Regions from separate parts of the Homo sapiens genome. Here region 1 is linked to region 2. Evidence: fine-mapped expression QTL. A gene starts in region 2. The other region holds a variant in brackets. All regions are shown on one strand. Distances are between the middles of the regions. Region 1 overlaps DISC1 (DISC1 scaffold protein). Region 2 holds the start of GNPAT (glyceronephosphate O-acyltransferase).

Evidence for each region. PIP is the estimated chance that this variant, and not a neighbour inherited with it, causes the effect.
Region 1: its variant is the best candidate, but not a certain one, in a credible set for the expression of GNPAT in esophagus mucosa (GTEx, PIP 0.84).

Annotation. Positions count from the first base shown.
Region 1 is chr1:231,800,697-231,803,611 of GRCh38, forward strand. The region is part of intron 8 of DISC1 (DISC1 scaffold protein); the gene reads left to right. The region is part of intron 11 of TSNAX-DISC1 (TSNAX-DISC1 readthrough (NMD candidate)); the gene reads left to right. Among named protein-coding and RNA genes, the nearest start is that of DISC2, 16 kb to the right of the region's middle. The variant T/C (reference allele first, on the strand shown) is at 1,215.
Region 2 is chr1:231,240,103-231,243,017 of GRCh38, forward strand. It overlaps GNPAT (glyceronephosphate O-acyltransferase), which reads left to right and starts at 1,110. Exons shown (of 16, transcript NM_014236.4): 1 at 1,110-1,354. The coding sequence starts at 1,277. It overlaps FSAF1 (40S small subunit processome assembly factor 1), which reads right to left and starts at 1,073. Exons shown (of 7, transcript NM_152379.4): 1 at 922-1,073. The coding sequence starts at 1,039. RefSeq lists enhancers at 803-1,142, 1,123-2,012.

The DNA.
Region 1 (2,915 bases), 560 kb after region 2:
TCTCTGAAAACAGTATCTTATCCTATCATTAGTGCTTTCAAACACTCCTCTGGATTTGTTATTTTATTTTCACAATTGCTATATTAGGTAGATGGGAGAGAGACCGTGATCCGAATGGACTGATGGGGAGGTTGAGGCTGCGGGATGTGTCCTTTGGTTAAGGTCACTCAATTAGCTAAGCAGTGGCAGATCTGGGGCTAAAGTCCAGGCCCTCTCTCGGTGTATTATATATGGATTTTTAACCCAGTTATGTAATGACAGCTTCAAAAAGTTCTCTGAGTTTTATAGGTTGAATGGACCCAGAGCTCATCAGCTTCAAAAGAATCATAAAAATTTAACAAAAAGTTATAATAATTACATGTATGTGTTTTAAATGGTATTTTAAGAAGGAATACAATAATTGGCAGCTTCTGCTCCTCAGATCATTAAACAACTAATGTTGGCAGCTAAAGAGCAATTTGGTCCCTGGTGCAGTCACGCGTATTATTTACAACCAGTAGAACATGGCAGCGCAAATGTGGGGCTTGGCTCTTAACAGCTTCACATGCCATTTACTTGAAATTATGGGCCCATTTGCTGAGAGAAAAAAAAAGAAGATTGAACACAGTCTTGCTTCTGAGTTAGGGTTTTTGCCTTTCTTAATCAATATATCTTTCCCAGGAATACCGGTGGATGAGTCTGTGTTAAGCCCAAGGGAAGAAATGTATAATTCAGGCAGCAGAGATAGCCTCACTCCAATGTGAACAATCTCTCTTCAGACTCCAGGGAAAATGCCCAAGATGGTATATTGCGTATGGCGCAGGTTTCCTGTTTTAGCTCTTTGGTCAGCTGAGAAAATTGGTGAGGCCTGATCTGCTGAAGGATGACCTGAATTAACCCTCCTGGTAACTGACCTTTTGACCTCACTATTTTCTGGTTGCTCTGTATGCTCTTTGGTGGACCGGCCTTTCAGTCAATGGGCTGTCCCCATAGGTGATACTAGTGTTAAGGTGGTCAACATTTGTTTGCAACTCCTGCATATAATGCTATTTCTGTTTTCTCCTGTTTCAATACCTTCAGAATGGGCAAACCCTCACTCCATTAGGTAAGATTCTTAAAAGCCCTATTGAATGGAAAGGATCTTGGTTTTTTTTTTTTTTTGAGTCAGAGTCTCGTTCAGTCGCCCAGGCTAGAGTGCAATGGCGCGATCTCGGCTCACTGCAAGCTCTGCCTCC[T/C]GGGTTCATACCATTTTCCTGCCTCAGCCTCCCAAGTAGCTGGGACTACAGGCACCCGCCACCACGCCCGGCTAATTTTTTGTATTTTTAGTAGAGACGGGGTTTCACTGTGTTAGCCAGGATGGTCTCAATCTCCTGACCTTGTGATCTGCCCTGAATGGAGAGGATCTTAAGGGAGGTCCTTAAGATTCTTAGGGGGTCTTTTGTCTCTCTTCAAGTTTCTATGATTCGCTTAGATTTATAGACTGATTGATATGGTTTGGCTCTGTGTCCCTACCCAAATCTCATCTCAAATTGTAATCCCCACATTCAAGGGAGGGACCTGGTGGGAGGTGTTTGGATCATGAGGGCGGTTTCCCCCATGCTGTTTTCGTGATAGTGAGTGAGTTATCATGAGATCTGATGGTTTAACAAGTGTTTGGTAGTTCTTCCTGCATTCATTCTTCTTGCCACCTTGTGAAGAAGGTGCCTTGCTTTCCCCTTGCCTTCCGCCATGATTGTAAGTTTCTTGAGGCCTTCCTAGCCATGGGGAACTGTGAGTCAATTAAATCTATTTTCTTTAAAAATTACCCAGTCTCAGGTGGTATCTTTATAGTAGTGTGAGAAAGGACTAATACATCCATCCTGACTTTGATCTATGGCCTGAGGTCCTTTCTTAATTTGAGAACTATTTGCCATTTGCAGAGAGTAGGAATAACAAATTAGTTTCATTTTCAAACCTGGCCAGATCTAGCTCCTTTACATGTAACAGTTTATTCTTTAATTCATCTCTCTTCTCTTGCATTTCATCACAGGCATTGACAGGAGGTCAGTGGGCACTTCTGTATTCTGCCTGGAAATCTCCTTGGATGTCTAACTACAATTATTAGGGACTCTTTTTTATATTGCCTCAGTTGGTAACTGAGTGACTTTTTTGCCACTACAAGGATCTTTTTTTTTCTAGTTTCTGATATATTTTTCTTACTTTTTTCTATCCTTCACGGAGGCCCATGAGGCTTCTGCCTACTACCAAGTCCCAAAACCAATGCCTCGATTTTAGGATTTTGTTACAATAGTATCCCATATCCAGATACCAAAATCTATTTTCATTATCTACTGCTGCCTAATAAAAAATAAGTCACTTTAAGACGTAGTGACTTAAAATATTACCAGTTATTTATTTTGCCCATGGAAATACAATTTGGGCAGGGCTTGGCAGGGACAGCTAGGGTGGCTCAACTGGGGTGGGAGAATCCACACCCAAGACGGTGCATACATATGGTCTGGCTGTTGAGTGCTCTCTATGTGGGCCTCTCTATAGGCAGCTTGGCTTCCTTACAACATGGCTGCTGGGTTCCAAGAGCAAGTGTCCCAAGAGAAAGGAAATGGAAATTTCTTATTCTTAAGGTCTGAATTCAGACACTGGTATGCATCTCTATTAATGTGTAATAAGTGGCTCCTCAAACTTCATAGCTTGAAACAACAAACCTTTATCTCTCACAGTCTCTGAGAGACAGGAGTCCAGAGTGACTTAGCTGGGTGGCTCTGACTCAGGGTCTCATAAGGTCGCTGTTAAGACACACTTTGGAGCTGCAGTCGTCTAAAGGCTTGGCTGGGGCTGAAAGATCTGCTTCCAAACTCATGCATGTGTTGTTAACAGACGGCTTCAGTTCCTTGCCACAAGAGCTGTGCCCTAGGACCTCTTGCAACATAGCAGCTGAT
Region 2 (2,915 bases):
CCTGCATCAGGTTTCATGAACTTCTAGTACTTGTTTCTACATCTGCAATCATGGATTTATGACAGTGTCTATTTCATGAAGTTGAAAATTAAATGAGCAAATACACGAAAAGCATGTGCTATATGGCAAGTTCTCAACAGTTTTAACTATTATTCCTACTGTTTAGGTGAACTTAGAATTTTGAGCAGTCATTCCAAAATAAAAATAGCTTTTAAAATATCACGCTGTAAATTTAAGAAATGTGTGTTGTCCTGAAATCTAATGATTTTCTTTGGTGCATGTGCAAAGGGTGTCACCTTCTCCCGGGAAAGCTCTTCAGAGTATGAGGCACTGTCTTCCTACTGACATGCCATGCGACTTTAATAGGCTCTTTTATTTTCCTTTTCCCCCATCAAGACAAAGAACGGAGAGTAAAAGATCAGCGCACTTGTTTAAAAAAAAAAAAGTCGTGAAAAGGACAACTCGCCAAGGACTATGATGTCTCTGGAGAGGGACACACAAGGATGAAGCTGGTGTATTATCCAACAGGCCCGAGGCCCCAGAGCGAAATGACACCATCGCACCAGGGTCAGGCAGGTCTTGGGGGTGGCATGGGGAAAGGGGACTTCCCAGGGCTCAAGAAAACGTGGAAAAGCGGGCTACTTTTAAATCGGAAAGCCTTGGTGCTTCCTACAAGCAAGTAGGATGGTCCCCACACTTGGGGACGAGTTGGAAGGTTTGATGAATAACTCAGCAGAGCCCGGTCGAGGGGTGACTTCCGATGGAGAAATGTGTTCGCTACTGGAACCAGGTGGGACGAAGGGTGCTTGACATGCAAGAACCTTTAGCCTCAAAGCAGAGGCCAACCCAGGACGGGCAACACAGGAGACCCACGTTCCTCAAATCTGTTCTCCACGTGGGCTCCTGGGACCCCGCACTCACCAAAGTCGTAAAGGTTCTGGAGCAGAGCGTCAAGAAGTGTCGGAGAACTGGGAGGCGTGGAGGACCCCGGCCCTTGCTCCTGCGACATTGTGGGGTCAGCCGAGGAATCAACCCTCATTCTGCCGCGCTGCACCCCCGCTTCCGGGTTCCGCGACTGCGCGCATGCGCTGCAGGGCCCTGCGCGGCTTCCGTCCTGGCTGAGATGGCGGCGCCCGGGATCCTGTGTAGCGGCTGCAGAGGGTGCCGCCGCCCTAGGCGAAGTAGGGCCGTCCTGAGCGAAAGAACCGCCCCCAGCAGGAGCACCACCACGGCTTAGCAAAGAATCCCAGACCCCGCCCGGGAAGGCAGCCGCACCATGGAGTCTTCCAGTTCATCTAACTCTTATTTCTCCGTTGGCCCAACCAGTCCCAGCGCTGTCGTGCTCCTCTACTCGGTAGGCGCCCAGGGAAAAGAGGCCCAGAGCGGAGCCGCGCGAAATAGTACCCCTTTCTCCCAGTCCCTATTCCTCCGGCCCACCACCCTTGCCCAAAAGAGCTGGCCCCTAGGCTCCCGAGGAGGGGTTAGTTGGTTGGATTGGTTTCCAGGACAACAGTGTATCGCTGTGTGTCTGTGTGTGCATGCTTTTGGAAGTTTCTACGGATTATGGTTCCTTTGGTTCCTTTCCACTTTTTCCTTCTCTTTCTTTCTATCAGGCCCTGGGGCCTTCAGAAAGCTCCTGGACACGAGAATGAGGAATGAGAATTGGAGTCTCCCCATCTCTAGCGAGGGCATGTCGAGCTACCTTTTGGGCAAACCTGAGAAACTTGCGGGTTTGACCCGCCCTGAGATAGCCTGTGGCTCCGCACCCCGCCCTATGCTGCTGTTATATTCCTGGGAGTAGAGCACTTGGCTTGTATGTGGGAATAGAGTTTTAAACACTTCAGGAAAATTTAGAACTTCTAGACATTTTTATTGCCTGTTCTTGTCTTCCAGTCATTATTGTACCTTTTCCACAAATCATTTTGGAGGACAGCCAGCGCCACCCAGCTTCTCTCCCGCTTGTCTTTTTTTCCTCCAACCCCCTCTTCCTCTCTTGGTTTTAACGGGTCTTTTTGGCTGGCAGATGTTGGTCACCCACGATTTTCATGAAGAAATTATGAGATGGGAGCTTTATAGCCTTCAGGATTGCACAGACCTGGGGCAACTGGTTTGGTTTTTGTTTGTTTCTTGTTGTTTTTAACCACTAAATTAGTTTTTAGCTACTTTAGGAGAAAATGAAAGAATTCATTTTAAAAGCATATTAGCATATCCTGGTGATTACTGTCCAATTTTGGCTTAAATGTAGTGTTCATTTGTGCAGAAAGGTCAAAACAGGGATAACACAGCAGAGCAAGATAAACACCCCAGTTTTGAAAGAGAATATATGGGTTCCTTCAAATTGAGACACCAATATTCTTTGGAACATGGAGAAACTTCTGTTCCCTCTCTATCAAGACCTTTCGGTTTCTGATTGCTAACTGCCTATAAGCCTTATTATTTAGATATATCTCTTCATTGATCTTATCTTCCCCACAGTTCTGTGGTGGATATCAACTTTGTTTTCTGACTCTGCTACTCCAGAGCAGGCACGAAGGGAAGAGGGTTGCTGTGCAGATCCAGCTTTTAACATGTAGCTTTTTAAGCTCCCAACTGGTTTGTGAATTGGTTGGAATTTTCCTTTTGTACATTAAAGGAAGGAGTTGGTTTTGTTTGTTTGTTTGTTTGTTTTACTTCCCCTTTACCAACGGTTCTTTAATAAGACTTGAGTCCACTTTTTCATGTGAAAAACTATGGCAGTTGTATCTGAGCATTCTGTAGTTCTGATGCTGGACAGCAACCCACTCTTTACTGGTAGTTCTCACTACTGTTTTGTGACTGGATAACCTTTACTTCCACGGTAACCTTACTTTTTCTTAGTACTTCAGGCTGTTTTTATTTCCCCAGCTACGCTGTTATTGTGTAATATTCTGATCTAA